Regions from separate parts of the Homo sapiens genome. Here region 2 is linked to region 1. A link means that fine-mapping ties the variant in region 1 to the expression of a gene that starts in the linked region. Tissue or cell type: whole blood. Region 1 holds a variant in brackets; the other region holds the start of a gene. All regions are shown on one strand. Distances are between the middles of the regions.

The links. PIP is the estimated chance that this variant, and not a neighbour inherited with it, causes the effect.
Region 2: CAPN12 starts here. The variant in region 1 is fine-mapped to the expression of CAPN12 in whole blood (INTERVAL, PIP above 0.99). The same link has a PIP of 0.9 or more in thyroid.

What each region holds. Positions count from the first base shown.
Region 1 is chr19:38,695,780-38,703,779 of GRCh38, forward strand. ACTN4 (actinin alpha 4) reads left to right here. Exons shown (of 21, transcript NM_004924.6): 2 at 4,821-4,935; 3 at 5,223-5,342. It overlaps LOC107985291 (a long non-coding RNA gene), which reads right to left. Exons shown (of 2, transcript XR_001753937.2): 2 at 6,145-6,385. Among named protein-coding and RNA genes, the nearest start is that of CAPN12, 45 kb to the right of the region's middle. RefSeq lists an enhancer at 6,726-7,226. The variant C/T (reference allele first, on the strand shown) is at 3,476.
Region 2 is chr19:38,740,723-38,748,722 of GRCh38, forward strand. CAPN12 (calpain 12) reads right to left here and starts at 3,752. Exons shown (of 21, transcript NM_144691.4): 1 at 3,207-3,752; 2 at 2,311-2,380; 3 at 1,688-1,806; 4 at 1,055-1,188. The coding sequence starts at 3,443.

The DNA of each region.
Region 1 (8,000 bases):
TTGAGAATGACTTCTTCAAGGACACCTTTCTGTGTCTGCCTCACCAGTCGCTTGGTGCCCCCCCACCCCGCCACCATGCTGACCGCACTCTTCAGCTCCCATCCCAGGGGAGGTGACACAAACTCGGCCCCAGGAGCCCAGCACCTGGCTTTAAACCCAGCTCTGTAACTTTCTAGGTGTGTGACTGATGGGAGCAAGCCACTTCACCTCTCAGGCCCTCCGTTTCCTCATCTGCAAAATGGAGGCAGTACTAGCACCTCCCTCCAGAGATGATTACGAGGGTGACAGAATTAGTAAGTGACCAAGTGCCTCGAGCAGTGCCCGCCCCTAGTAGACTCTATGGAAGTGTCTGCTGCAGTTATTGCTGTTATTATTACCACTTTTCCTAAGGGCGTTATTTCTGGAGTGGACTGATCGCTTGATTAATGAGATCAGACCTGGAGCCTCATGAGAGTGTCTGCTTTTGCTCACTGTTATGGATTCAGCACAGGGCCTGGCCCTCTGCTGACCCCCAGCATATGCTTGTCCAGAGAATGAATATGTACGGACCCATGGTGGCCTGGGGCATCATGAGGTCGGCTGCCCACATTCTGAGAATTTTGCATGGTGGAGGGCGGCGTGGTGGGCGCATAGGGCCCCCATCTATAGAAACCACCTCTCCACACCATCCACCCCACGCAGCGTAGTCTAAACCGGGTAGGGAGAGGAAGGATGGAAGCAGAGTGTTATTTTTGTAACCAAGTAGAAGAAGCGATGAATTTTTAATGTCCCATTCGAACTCCAGCTCCTACTCACCAGTCTCTCCGCATGGAGAAGTGGCCGTCATGGTCGACCTGTTCCCAAGGGTGGCCTTGTGAGTGCAGGCTCTCCTCACCAGAGCTGAGGGCTTTGTGAACCTCTGATGTCAATAGATGCCCCTCATCTTCCAGGAGGACAAAACAGGGCAAAGCAAGACATGGGGTGAGAACAGGAGTGCATCAGTGGGGTTCCCCAAGCCTGTGTCAGGTCCGGATCTGGGTGGGAGTTCCCTTCTGCGTCATCCAGGCCAGGCGAGTGGGCATCCTCCCTGAGCACCTGTGCTTGGGGCTTTGCCTGTGTCAGTCAGGAAGACAGAGTACACGGAAGAGTTACCATTGCTTTCAGAGCAAACCTTCCTTTGACATGCATTTAACACAGCACGGAGTGATTGACATGTGTCCTTGTGTTTAATCCCTATCTTAACCTCTCGGTTACTGTCCTGTTTATCAGTGAGGAAACTGAGGCTTATTGCTTGCCTGAGGCCTCAGTGGCAGAAGCAAGATGTGAATCCGCACCTGTGTGATGCCCAAGCCAGAGCTCTTGTTTACTACCCAGAGAAGATGAGCACAGGTGGGATGTACGTATGGAGGGCGGGTAGGGCAGCAGCCCCTCTGAGGACAGGTGGCCAGAACCCAAGCGGCGAGGTTTGTTCACAGCCTCCACAGGGTGGGGTGGGGCCATCCGCAGAGGGTCTCCTGCCATCCCATTTTCCCTGCATACCAGTGGGTGGTCTGAGAGCCTTTGCAGAGAAGAGACTGGATCTCAGCACGTGCTTATGTGCGTGTGTACATGCACACACATGCGTGTGATTCATCTGGCTCTTACTTTATGCCAAGGAGCCTGTCACATGCTTTAAATGTATTTTCCCTAGTTTAATTCTTAGAGCACACTGCAGGAGGTAGATTCTGATAAATCCATCTTACAGGGAAGGAAACAGACTTAAGTAGGTAAAGTCACTTGGTTGAAAACATGGAATGAGTAAGCCAAGGGGCAGGTATTCAAACCCAAACCCAGGTCTGTGCCCCTGCAGAGCCTGCAGGAGCAGCCCACACAGGCCAAGGCTGTGAGGGGTGCTGTTTGCACGCGTGCGTGGCCCTCCCTGCAGCCCAGGTGCCTAGGTCTGGGCCTGGCAACACCAGAGCACGGGGCCTTGCCCTCGGGGAACAGCCCTCTTTTGTCCTCAGGCTGTGGGATGTGTCTTGGCTACTTTGCTGCCCAGCAGTGCCTGCTCTCAGGCACATGTGAGAGTAGAGGCCTAGCATCCGTGGCCACTTCCTTCCCAGCCCATTTGCTGCTGCCCTTTGCTCTGCAGGGCTGCTGGGCTCCTGGGCTCCACGCCTGCTTGCTGCCTGCCATCAAGGCTGGCAGTGCTCTGGGGCTGTAAAGGTGCAGGCGCCGTACTTCCCAACCCCTGGAGCTCGCACATGGTAGGAGAGAAAGCTCATGTGCATGCAACATCCAATAAGACTAAAAGTGACTGGGGGTTGCTACGGGAGAGGTGCTGAGGGTGGGCCGGGGACAGAGCAGGCACACTGTGGAGGGGGTGGGCAGGACTCCTGAGACCAGGGCAGGGAGGGAGGAGATGCTGGGAGGCACAGGGCCATCCAGAGAGCTGCCACTTCCTGAGCATTGCCATGCACGCTGCAGGCATGGCCATCTTGAGTCCTCACACTGCCCGTGGCCTAGGTGGGGTCTTCATCCCCACGTTGCAGAGGAGGAAATGGAAGTTAGGAAGGTTAGGTGACGTGCCCACATGAGTGGTGTAAGCATGGTTCCCGCCCTGGGCTCTCTGAATTCAGTATTGTATGGGGGAGGCTGGGAAGGTGAGTTAGTACTCTCCGCAGTGAGAACCTGCCTTGGCTCCCCTCCCCTCAAGGAGTTCATAGCCGTGGGAGGGAGGGAGACAAGAACTGTTGGAGACAAGAACTGTTAGAGACCAGAGAGCAAGGGCGTGATGTGGTCTGCAGGGAGGAGGCTGTCTGAGGCAGAACCGGGTCAGGGAGGCCATGGTGCGGGTACCCTCCAGGCACGGCATTTGGCCTGACTTTTGAGGGGTGCCCAGGGTTGGCTACATGGCGGGGCGGAGGTATCTTTAGTGGGGGAACAGCGTTGTGCCACCAGGAGGGGTCTCTGTCTCCCAGGTAGAGGAATTCTCCATGGTGAGAGGTGGTGGTGGGGGATGGTCTAGCTGTCCACTCTTGCCCCCTTTCGGATTTGGAAGGAAGCCCCATGCTGGGTCCACACTGGTATGGCGTATTAATTAGGCAGCTGCTTTGTCTGGGAGGGGGCTTTGTGTCGAGTCTCCCTGAATGAGCAGGGCTGGCGACAGTTGTCAAAACACATGGTGCTTGGTCAGAGCCCCCGTAGAAGCCCCTTGTCCTCCGCATGGCCTCCGCCTGCACCCGGGGCGTGGAATGTGCTCTTGTGTGTCCCTGGCTGTCTGCTTGCTTCTACACTGGCCCCTGCAGATGGAGGGGGTGGGGTACAGGGGTTCCTATAAGAAGCAGACACTTGGGGTTTTTCCCAGGTCCTGTTGCAGGAGGGTGCGTGGGCTGGTTTCCCTGAAGGCGCCTGGGCGTGTTGGTGTTAACTGATCTGAGATCTTCTGTGGCCCTGATGTCTATGAGCATGCCCCAGCTTGCAGGGGGCTGAGTAGCCGGGCACCACCAGGAGGCTG[C/T]GTGCCCTGTGCTTGGGTGTACCCATGCCCTGTCAGCATCGTTGGTCTGTTAGGGTCAGGGACTTCGGCTTCTTGTTTAGTACCCTCCATCCCTTCCAGTTGATCATCAGAAACATTCTCCTTAGATGCGGCTGCCTGACCCCGGTGAGGGGGCCTGCCTCCCACTTGCCTTCCAGCCTCCTCTAAGCTGCACTGAGTCTTAAAAATAGGAAGGATAGGGCTGGGTGTGGTGGCTCACGCCTGTAATCCCAGCAGTTTGGGAGACCGAGGCGGGTAGATCACTTGAGGCCAGGAGTTCAAGACCAGCCTGGCCAACATGGTAAAACCCCATCTCTACTAAAAAGACAAAAATTAGATGGGCATGTTGGCATACACCCGTAGTCCCAGCTACTCAGGAGGCTGAGGCATGAGAATCGCTTGAACCCAGGAGGTAGAGATTGCAGTGAGCTGAGATTGCGCCACAGCACTCCAGCCTGGGTGACAGAGCGAGACTCCTTCTCAAAAAAAAAAAAAGGAAAAAAAAGAATAGGAAGGATAGGGCATGGCATGTTCTCCAGGAGACAGAGGGACGGGGGCATCTTGCTTGCAGGAAGCCAGGCGACACAGGCGTGTGTGCAGGGCTCAGAGGGTCTGTGTTCCTGGCCTTTCCTGGGAGGGCTTGCTCTTGGGCTGCCCAAAGCTCAAAGAGAGACTCGAGGAAATCCTGCATTTATGGGAGCTTTTCTTTTCCTGCCACTTTCCTGTTCTGGGTTGTATCTGTGCACGTGATTGGAACGTAGCAGCCTGAGCTCCTGCCTGAGGAGAGCAGCCACGGGTCACGGAAGCCAGGGTCCAGCTGGGGCCTTTGGGTCTAGCTGGCAGATGAAGGGCTGGCCTTCATCAAGAAAACAAGCCCCATGAGGGCAGGAGCCCGACCTGTTCATTCCACACCACCGAGCCTGGTGCTCAGTCATGTTTGTGTGACTGAGTGAGCCGGCGGCGGGCTGAGGCGCTTTTGTCTGGTGTGCGTACTGGTCTCCCTTGAGGCAGCTTGGGGGTGTGGAAAAAGCACATGTTGCCAAAATTGACAGACCTGGGTTCAAATCCAAGCTCTGCCACTTACCGCCTGGATGGTCTTGTGATGGGTCATTAACCACCCCGAGCCTCAGTTTCCTCACATCTGCCTCCCGGGGTCACTGTAAGGATCAGAAACAATGTGTGTATCGGCCATGTACGGTGTGTGTCGGCGAGTGCTCCGTGGCAGCTGCGGTTCTCCTGAGGTCAGAGCTGCGGCCCTGCAGGTGTGTGGAGAGAGCCCCGACAGCCAGGCTGACTCTGCGCACTGTCCTTTGTTCTGCTTCCCCAGACCTTCACGGCATGGTGCAACTCCCACCTGCGGAAGGCAGGCACACAGATCGAGAACATTGATGAGGACTTCCGAGACGGGCTCAAGCTCATGCTGCTCCTGGAGGTCATATCAGGTGAGACTCCCAGCCACGCAGTGCGGCCGAGCCCTGGCACAGGTGCTCTGCCACAGCGGTCCCCAGAGACCCTGCCCACCCAGCTGTCCCATTGCTCCTGGGGAGGAGAGGGCACCCCTTAATAGCTGCACGGTGGTCTGATGGGTGGGGCCAGAGTGGCCTGGTGGGCCAGCAGAGGAACCTGCTTTTGGAGAACAGAGGAGACTCTAAAGCCTCTCTCCCTCTCGCCCTCTCTCCCTTTCTCTCTCTCTGTCTCGCCCCCTCTTTTCTCTTTGTGCACTTCTCAGGGGAGCGGTTACCTAAGCCGGAGCGGGGGAAGATGAGAGTGCACAAAATCAACAATGTGAACAAAGCGCTGGACTTTATTGCCAGCAAAGGCGTCAAGCTGGTCTCCATCGGGGCAGAAGGTGAGCTGGAGGTGGGGCAGCGAGGGTCCTGCTCGGTTTCTGACCTTTAGGCTCTGAAGCACAACATCTGCATCCTGAAGAGAAGTTTTGTTGGTGGCAGGGCGCTTGGGGCACTCAGAGCCCCAGTACATACTCAGCAGTGATCACAACAACTGCTCTTGATATGATGCTGGGCCCACAAGCTCCCCCAAACCCTTGGAAAAATCCGGTGGGCGCAGTCCAAATCTAGGAAGTGCAACCCACCCAACCACGGGGGCGACGGCTTCTGCAGGGGGAGGAATGGTTTTGACTCGGACTCAGGTCGCCCTCACTGGTTCTCCTTGTGCCAGGCTCAGCAGACAGTGACAAACATGTGCCATGGCCTCTCTCTGTACCAGGAACACCTTTCTCATTATGCCCTGCCCGGTATCAGAGAAGGACTGGAGGCCCCATGTCAGGCATTGGGACAGGGAGTGCACGGCCAAAGGTCAGTGCCTAGACTTTGCCCTGTGTGCATGGGCTTGGAGAATTTTGCCTCTGACCACCCCAGGATCCTCCTGGGCCCCACGTAGATAACCAGGACCACAGTCCACTACCTGCAGGCCCTCACTAGAGCAGCAGGCTCTCAGCAGGGGCCCCTGGGTTGAGCTCCCAGGCGCTTTTAGAGACAGGCGAGGCCTGATGGAGCCCCAGCAGCATGAGCTCGCAGTCCACTCATTAGTCAGAGTAAGATTTCTTCACCCTGACATCCATGTTGTCCCAGCTTCTAGAAAAACAAAGTAAACTAATTGCCGTTAATGACAGGGCTCTGAGAGTTTGGCCAAGACTCCGGGCCAGAATGTGTGTGCTGAGTTCCAAGGCTCTGCCCCGGCCCAGGACCTCTGCGATGAGGGGTGCCAAGCCTTGCATGCCACAGTCGAGGTGGTTGGTGTTTGTTTAAAAAAATCACAACCCAAAAATTCAGTCAGGCCCTGAGATTTTCTGTCCTTGCATGGGTCTTTCCTCCAGGCTCTGTTCCAGCCTTCTGCTTCTCACAGCTGCATTTATTTTGCTCAAATGCTAGTCTGTAAATACAGAAGGGGTTAGAGGAGAGACCCATGTCAGTCATCAGTTTTCATTTGGAGAAAAACTTGGTCTAAAAATGTTCTCTGTTCATGCCCAAATTGGTTCACTCCCAATCCCTGTGACTGTGGGGCCTTGGAACAAAGCCTAATGGAGGCGTTCCTGGGGCTCAAGGCACCTGAGAACCCCGCCCCACCCTGTCCCCCTGTCCTTCCACATGATTGGGCATTCGCGGGAGCATTGGCTTCCCGTGGGGGTGATGAGAGGGGCCGGAGGCACAGCTGCAGGTCAGAGAAGCAGCTGGTGGATGTGTCATGAGAAACGCCATCCTCCTCTCCTCACCGGAACTCCATAAGCCCTCCGTTACCAGCTGCACCTGTACTTGCTGAGCCGGGGAGCTGCGGCCTTGCCCAGCTCTGCAGGCCCGGCCCTCAGGAGGTGCACAGAATAGATTTCCTGAGGCTCGAGCTGCCTCGCTGCACTAAGGGGCAGGTGGTGCTGCTCAGTTTCTGGGTCTGGGGCTCTGAACCCTAGGACAGGGTGGACACTGGGTCCCTCCCCTGTCTCTGGGCAGCAGAATGAGCATATTTCCTCCTCTCAAAACCCGAAAGCTGTGGCTCATGGACACCCCCTTCCTCTGGGTGTGTCCCCGGGGGAAGGTGAGCCCCATCTTCTCTGTGACCTCTCCACCTGCTTCCAAGCAAGCCTGCCCTGGAGTATTCTGCTCAGAGGTCAGTGAGCAGGGTCTCCTGTGGTGTCCTGGGCCTCCAGCTCTGCAGTTAGCTTTGGAACTCACCCCTGTGCCCAGCCCTTCCCCGAGAGTGCTTGCAGCAGTGGCGCCCCTCTGTCTTCTTTGGAAGCCACTCCATCATGCCCCTTGCATATGGCGTGTTGACAAGTTGGGAGGACTGCCCTAGGCACGGCTGGCTGATGGACTCTGGGATGAGGCACTGCCTTCTCTCACCCAGCCGCAGACACACAGCTGTCCTGGGCCTTGCAGAGATGATTTTTCTCTTAAGTTACTGAGGCTGAAGAAGGTGTGGTCCAAGCCCTTCTTTTGAGAAGTTTCAGCAATTTTTTTTTTTTTTTTTTTGAGATGGAATCTCACTCTTGTCACCTAGGCTGGAGTGCAATGGTGCAATCTCAGCTCACTGCAACCTCTGCCTCCCGGGCTCAAGCAATTCTCCTGCCTCAGCCTCCAGAGTAGCTGGGATTACAAGCACCCGCCACCACGCCAGGCTAATTTTGTGTTTTTAGTAGAGACGGGGCTTCACCATCTTGGCCGGGCTGGTCTCGAACTCCTGACCTCAGGCGATCCACACCTGCCTCAGCCTCCCAAATTGCTGGGACTAAACAGGCGTGAGCCACCACAGCCGGCCGCAAATGTTTGTTTTTAGGTTAGTTCAGAAAGCGTGCAGTCTGGCCTCAGGCCCGTGCTCTCCCCTTCCTGACAACACAGCAGCCATGCTTGTTCCTCACTGGCCTTCCAGGCACTGGATCCAGTGGTGGTCAGAGCAGCCCCGCCCTCACGAGGGCAGGCAGACAGTGAACAAGTAAACAGCCCGACCAACATGTGATTTCACTAGTGATGCCTTGGGGCAGCACAGGGGCCAGGGA
Region 2 (8,000 bases), 45 kb after region 1:
TCGGGAGGCGAAGGTTGCAGTGAGCCAAGATCACGCCATTGCACTGTAGCCTGGGCAACAAGAGTGAAACTCCATCTCAAAAAAAAAAAAAAAATTCAGACTCTTGACGGGGGGAACTGTGGCACATACAGAAGCCCTTGGAGATTGGGCCTGTGGTCCTTGGGGTGACCAGGACTTCGGTTTGGTGGGGGGCATGGGAGAGCTGTGTTAGAATTCTGAGAGTCCTGGTGCTGTCTGAAACCTTGAACCTCTGGTAGATGTCCGCTTTGGGGGATCATCCCTATGGGGGCTTGTCAGGAATTTCAGAGCCTCAGAATGGGGAAAAGGCAAAGATTTGAGGGTCCCAGGGTGACCCCCAATATTTTGGGGGTGCTTTAGATTTCTCAATGGACCAGGAGAGACAATCTAAGATATACAGCTCACCCGAGGGGATAAATCCCAGATTTGGTGAATCCAGGGCCTGATATATGAGATTTCAGGATCCTTAAGAATTATGAGTGACTGGGGGTCTCCAGGAATGTTTTGTGTGAAATATTGATGGAGAGAGGGGTTTAAGATTTGAAGGTACAGCTGAGCACAGTGGCTCACACCTGTAATCCCAGTACTTTGGGAGGCCAAGGAAGGTGGATCACCTGAGATCAGGAGTTGGAGACCAGCCTGACCAACATGGTGAAACCCCATCTCTACTAAAAATATAAAAATTAGCCAGGCATGGTGGTGCGCTCCTGTAATCCCAGCTAGTCGGGAGGCTGAGACAGGAGAATCGCTGGAACCTGGGAGGCAGAGGTTGCAGTGAGCCAAGATCGCGCTACTGCACTCCAGCCTGGGCGACAGAGTGAGTGAGACTCCGTCTCAAAAAAAAAGAAAAAAAAAAAAAACATGAAGTTGCTCAGGTGATGTTGTGATATGAGGGTTCTGGCGGTTGTCACTTGGTTTGGGATTCTTGGTGGGGTGTTTGGAGGATTGCAGAGCTTGGGGGACTCTGGGTCCCCCTGTGGCTTGATGCCTGCTGTGGGGACTTAGGGCTGCAGCTGGTTGGAACTGGGGTCCTCACTTGGCGTAGGCCTTCTCCAGGAGTGGGGCCCAGAACTCATTCCGCTGTTCCGAGCGCACGAACATCAGCTTCCCCTCACGCACGGGCAGCCTGTCATCCACCACGACGTCCATCCAGCGGCCAAACTGCCAGAGCTGGTGGGAGAAGATGCAGGGCCGGACTCGGCTTCCAACCTCCAACCCTGCCTGGGCCCTGCCTCTGCTGTGCCAGTCCCAGAGTCAGGAATTACAGCCCCAAGTCAACGTTAACTATGAAATCCATATGGCTGGCCGGGTGCGGTGGCTCACATCTGTAATCCCAGCACTTTGGGAGGCCGAGGCGGATGGATCACGAGGTCAGGAATTCGAGACCAGCCTGGCTAAGATGGTGAAATACCATCTCTACTAAAAATAAGAAAAAATTAGCTGGGCATGATGGCGGGTGCCTGTAATCCCAGCTACTCAGGAGGCTGAGGCAGAGAATTGCTTGAACCTGGGGGCGGGGCGAAGGTTGCAGTGAGCCGAGATTGTGCCACTGCACTCCAGCCTGGATGACAGAGTGAGATTCCATCTCAAAAAAAAAAAAAAAGAAAAATCCATATCACCAAGTCACCATGGGGGAAACGGAGGCATGGGCAGAGGAACTGAGCTGTACCTGGAAGTGGAAGACGCCTGCGTAGCCATGCTGGAAATCCTGTCCAGGAGGGACCACCCGGCGCAGGAGCCGGGGATACAGAGTAAGGGAGGCGGCAGCTGCAAGGAACCAGCAGTTACCTGGGAGGAGAGGCCAGGATTAGGTGAGGATGGAAGGAGGGAGGCCTGGTGCGGTGGCTCATGCCTCTAATCCCAGCACTTTGGGAGGCCAAGGCAGAAAGATCACGTGAGCCTAGGAGTTCAAGACCAGCCTGGCCAACATGGCAAGACTCCACTACAAGAAAATTTAAAAATTAGCTGGGCATGGTGGCATGCACCTGTAGTCCCAGCTACTTGGGAGGCTGAGGCAGGAAGATTGCTTGAGTCCAGGAGGTTAAGGCTGCAGTGAGCTATGATGGTGCCACTGTATTCCAGAATGGGTGACAGAGTGAGACCCCATCTCAAAAAAAAAAAAAAAAAAAAAAGGAAGGAAGGAAGGAGGGAGGAGGGAGAGAGAGGCCTAGGGAGAGAAGAGACTGAGGAGGGATCCAGGGGCCGGGAGTGGGTGGACAAAGGGATGGAGCTGTCAGGATCTCAGCTGAAACTAGCTGGATCTGAGGACTCCAGGTGGGTTCAGGGTCTCACCCAGGCTCCCCTGACACACGTCTGTGCGGCTCATGTCTTCACAGATGAACTTCGGCTCAGCACAGAACTCCTGTGGGTGGTGGGGGATTCCAGGCCTCAGCCTGAGAAAGCGAGGAAAGGTCTCATCCAGAGGAGTGAGGGCCTCCAAGCCCATGAAAGGCCTGGAAGCCTGTGGGCAGGAGCATGGCTTCCCTGGGTCTCCAGAAGTTGTGCTGAGCCAGTCCCATGGTAGCCCCCTCCTCCCTCAGACCCGGGAGTCCAGGCCCAGCCCCTCCTCCCTCAGACCCAGGAGTCCATGTCCCGAGCCCCTCCTCCCTCAGACCCAGGAGTCCAGGCCCAGCCCCTCCTCCCTCAGACCCAGGAGTCCAGGTCCCGAGCCCCTCCTCCCTCAGACCCAGGAGTCCAGGCCCAGCCCCTCCTCCCTCAGACCCAGGAGTCCAGGTCCCGAGCCCCTCCTCCCTCAGACCCAAGAATCCAGGTCCCCAGCCCCTCCTCCCTCAGACCCAGGAGTCCAGGTCCAGCCCCTCCTCCCTCAGACCCCGGAGTCCAGGTCCCCAGCCCCCTCTTCCCTCAGACCCAGGTGTCCAGGCCTTGGCCTCTCCTCCCTCAGATCCAGAAGTCCAGGTCCAAGCCCCCTCCTCCCTCAGACCCAGGAGTCCAGGTCCCCAGCCCCTCCTCCCTCAGACCCAAGAGTCCAGGCCCAGCCCTTCCTCCCTCAGACCCAGGAGTCCAGGCCCAGCCCCTCCTCCCTCAGACCTAAGAGTCCAGGTCTCGAGCCCCTCCTCCCTCAGACCAGGGAGTCCAGGCCCCCAGCCTTCCTTCCTCAGACCCAGGAGTCCATGCCTCCAGCCCCTCCTCCCTCAGACCCCAGAGCCCAGACCCCAGCCACACTTTACATGGGGCCTCATCCATTTCACGCCTTTGGCCTTCTCCGAGTCCGGCCCCAGCTGGTCATAGCCAAGGGCATCAGGGCCAGCAGGGAAGTAAGGGTCGCGGAACAGGATCCCCGAATCCAGGCAGGCTGCCCGAATTGCCTCATAGCTCTGGCCCCGAAAAAGCTGCAGGCGCCCGGCTCCGACCCCAGCCTCCTCATCCACGAGCTGGATGGTGACCCTCCCACTGCTGGATGCCATCTGGACACTGGCCTCACAAGCCGGCACCAGGCCCTTTAACCTCCTGAGTCACGGGGGCGGGGCCTCTCTTCCATTGGAGCCCCAGTGGGGTCTTTAGGCAATGAGGAGCCTTCCCTCGTTAATATTAATTGATGGTTTGGGGTGCTGGGGAGCAGGGACGCCTCTTCAGTAGCTTTCTTCCCAGGGCGTGGGGCCTTCAGTTGTGGCCAAGGTAGCAGCTTAATGGGCTTGGCCAGCAGCAGGAGAGAAGGCGGGCAGAGCTGAGGGAGGACCGGCTGCCGCTGTCAGAGCACCAAGAAGGAGGTCAGTGTGGGGGTGAGCTTCTGCCTACTTATGCCTGTGGGGCTGGGGAAGGAGGCGGGTTTACCTCGGTGTCTCTATCTCTCAGACTGCCTCTCTCCCCCTCCCTCTGACAGTTTCTCTCTCCCCGCCTTCATGTTTCTTCTCCATCAGTTTCTGGAGTGCAGTGGCACGATCTCAGCTCACTGCAACCTCCGCCTTCTAGGTTCAAGTGATTCTCCTGCCTCAGCCTCCCAAGTAGCTGGGATTACAGGCTCGTGTCACCATGCCCAGCTAATTTTTGTATTTTTTGTTAGAGAAGGGATTTTACCATGTTGACCAGGCTGGTCTTGAACTCCTGGCCTCAAGCAATCCGCCCACCTTGGCCTCCCAAAGTGCTGGGATTACAGACGTGAGCCACTGTGCCTGGTCAGGTTTTGTTAATTAAAAAAAATTTTTTTTAAAGTAGAGACAGAGGGGTGGCGGGGGGCGGTCCCATATGTTCCCCAGGCTGGTCTTGAACTGCTGGCCTCAAGTGATCCTCCTGCTTCAGCAGCCTCCCAGAGAGCTGGGATTACAGATGTGAGCTACTGTGCCTGGCCCTTTCTTGTTTTTTGTTTCTGGCAATATTTGTGTCTCTGTATTTCCCCAACTCCACCCCTCTCCCCACCCCACCCTCTTTTTTTTTTTTTTTTTTTTTTTGTAGAGATGGGGCGGGGATCTCACTTTGTTGCCCAGACTGGTCTCGAACTCCTGGGCTCAAGTGATCCTCCCCGCTTGGCCTCCCAAAGTGTTGGGATTACAGGCGTGAATCACTATGCCTGTCCCCTCTCTCTTTGTGTCTCTTTCAGCGTGTGTCTGTTCCTCTCTGTACCTGTCAGACCCAGGAGTCCAGGCCCCCAGCCCCTCCTCCTTCAGACCCTGTCAGTGTACCTTGTGTCTGCCTCCCTGTCTCTTCCTCTCCATCTTTCTGTCTGTCCCTGTAACCCATATGTGGCTCCTCCATCATCCACCGAGGGACCCTGAGCTCCCCTCCGCTCACGCCCCCTAAGCCCTCAGGATGCGCCTCCTCCCCTCCCGGACAAGGTAGACTCAGCCTGCTTGCCCAGGGAGGCTGACCCTGGAGGGATGGCTCTGTACCTCTCCTGTGCTGGGAGCCATCTGGTGACCATGATGCCCTGCCCTGGCCCACGCCACTCAGAGTCTGGATGGAGCAGTATTTCCCCCAAAGGACTCTGGAGCCATTGGAGGAAATGGGAGAAACAGGTACGGAGATGCCAGAGCCTCAGCAGTGCTGGTCCCAGCAGACCTTCCACCCTCGTTGAGGGTGTCTGCTGCCCTCCCAGAGCCTTGTCACCTCCACGCCACTCAGATGTCCCTCAAGCCTTTTGGCCTTCTTCCCTCCAAGTGGACCCACAAATATTGTCCAAGCCACCCACGTACACGGCTACCAAAAGTGGGTTACAAAACAGGCTTTCTGGCTGGGCGTGGTGGCTCATGCCTGTAATCCCAGCACTTTGGGAGGCCGAGGCAGGCAGATCACCTGAGGTCAGGAGTTCGAGACCAGCCAGGCCAATGTAGTGAAACTCCGTCTCTACTAAAATACAAAAATTAGCCGGACATAGTTGCGGGCACCTGTAATCCCAGCTACTCAGAAGGCTGAGGCAGGAGAACCGCTTGAATCTGGGAGGCGGAGGTTGCAGTGAGCCGAGATTGTGCCACTGCACTCCAGCCTGGGCAACAGGGCAAGACTGCATCTCAAAAAACCCCCCAAAACAGGGCCGGGCATGGTGGCTCATGCCCGTAATCCCAGCACTTTGGGAGGCTGAGGTGGGCAGAACACTTGAGGCCAGGAGTTCAAGACCAGCCTGGCCAACATGGTGAAACACCATCTCTATTAAAAATACAAAAATTAGGCTGGACGCGGTAGTTTACTACGCCTGTAATCCCAGCACTTTGGGAGGCCGAGACGGGCGGGTCAGGAGTTCCAGACCAGCCTGGCCAACATGGTGAAACCCCATCTCTACTAAAAAATACAAAAAAATTAGCTGGGTGTGGTGGCACGCACCTGTAATCCCAGCTACTCAGGAGGCTGAGGTAGGAGAATCGCTTGAACCCGAGAGGTGGAGGTTTCAGTGAGCCAAGACTGCACCACTGCACTCCAGCCTCGGCAAGAGAGCAAAACTCCATCTCAAAAAAAAAAAAAAAAAGGCCGGGCACGGTGGCTCAAGCCTGTAATCCCAGCAGCACTTTGGGAGGCCAAAGCAGGCAGATCACGAGGTCAGGAGATCAAGACCATCCTGGCTAACACGGTGAAACCCCATCTCTACTACAAAAAATACAAAAAATTAGCCAGGCATGGTGGCGGCCACCTGTAGTCCCAGCTACTCGGGAGGCTGAGGCAGGAGAATGACGTGGACCCAGGAGGCGAAGCTTGCAGTGAGCCGCCACTGCACTCCAGCCTGGTTGACAGAGCAAGACTCTGTCTCAAAAAAAAAAAAAAAAAAAAAAATTAGCTGGGCATGGTGGTACACACCTGTAATCCCAGCTACTCAGGAGGGTGAGGCAGGAGAATCGCTTGAACCTGGGAGGCGGAGGTTGCAGTGAGCCAAGATCACGCCACTGCACTCCAGCCTGGGTGAGAGAGTGAGACTCCATCTCAAAAAAAAAAAAAAAAAAGTTTTCTTCGTGTAGGATTGCCAAGCCCACCCCAGCCCCACGGGAGTCATATGGGAGTGCTTCCAGCCTGCCGGGATTAGGAGCCACAGCACCTGGGGTCCAATCCCAGCTCTGCCACCTACACCTGTGTGTCTTTGGGCACATCACTTAACTTCTCTGTGCTTCAGTTTCCTCATCTCTGCAATGCGGATGATGATAGGGCGTACCTCGGAGGGTTGCTGTGGGAAGCGAATGAGTTCGTACGTGGGATGAGTTCAGAGAAGTGCCTGACACAGAGTCGCTGCTCACTGCACGAGGCATTGACCATGCCTTGGCGTTCAAGAGTGTCTGCTGCCCTCCCAGAGCCTTGTCACCTCCATGCCACTCAGATGTCCCTCAAGCCTTCTGGCCTCCTTCCCTCCAAGTGGACCCACAGATATTGTCCAAGCTGCCTACGTACATGGCTACCAAAAGTGGGTTACAAAACGAGCTTTCTGGCTGGGCGTGGTGGGTCACGCCTGTAATCCCAGCACTTTGGGAGGCCGAGGTGGGCGGCCTCGGCCATCCACAGTCAACCTGTCTCCTTGGATCTGGGCTGCTGTTTCTTTCACTTGTTTGTTGGTTTATTTTTTGGGACAGTCTCGCCTCGTCACCCAGGCTGGAGTGCAGTGGCGTGATCTTGGCTCACTACAACCTCCGCCTCCCAGGTTCAAGTGATTCTCCTGCCTCAGCCTCCCGAGTAGCTAGAATTACAGGCATGTGCCACCACGGCTGGCTAATTTTTGTATTTTTAGTAGAGACAGGGTTTCACCATATTGGTCAGGCTGGTCTTGAAAGCCTCACTTCAGGTGATCCACCCGCCTTGGCCTCCAAAAGTGCTGGGATTACAGACAGGAGCCACCGCGCCATGTCTTACTGTTTCTTTTTTTGTATTGTTTTGTTTTGTTTCTGAGACAGGGTCTGACTCTGTTGCCCAGGCTGGAGTGCAGTGGCACAATCTTGGCTCACTGCAGCCTTGACCTCCCGGGCTCAAGCAATCCTCCTGCCTCAGCTTCCTGAGTAGCTGGGACCACAGGCTTGTGCCACCATACCCAGCAAATTTTTAGACTTTTTGGTGGAATGGAGTCTCACTTTGTTGCCAGGGCTGGTCTTGAATCCCTGAGCTCAAGCAAACTTCCCATGTCAGCTTCCCAAAGTGCTAGGATTATAGGCCTGACCCACTGCACCTGGCCAGATGTACAACTTTCAAACCACTGAAGTAGCTTAAAATGAAAGGAAAAGAAAATGTAATCTATTTGGCAATGGTCGAAAAGCAAAGGAAAATGCAGCGAATCATAGAAAATAAAAGCAAAAAGCATCACACAATGACCTAAATAAAACCAAGCATATCAGTTATAACAACATTATGCAAATGTGTGAAACGTACTTGGGAACATCAACAAACAAAATTCAACTGTTTAGCTTTCAAAACACTTTCCAAAGATAACACCACCAAGTTTTAAAATAAAAGGATTAGAAATAGCTATCAGTCAAAAGCAGATACACAAAAATCAGGGCAAATCTGATATTAGAGAAAACCGGATTTAAAGCAGATAGCATTACTTTGGACAAAAGGAGTTA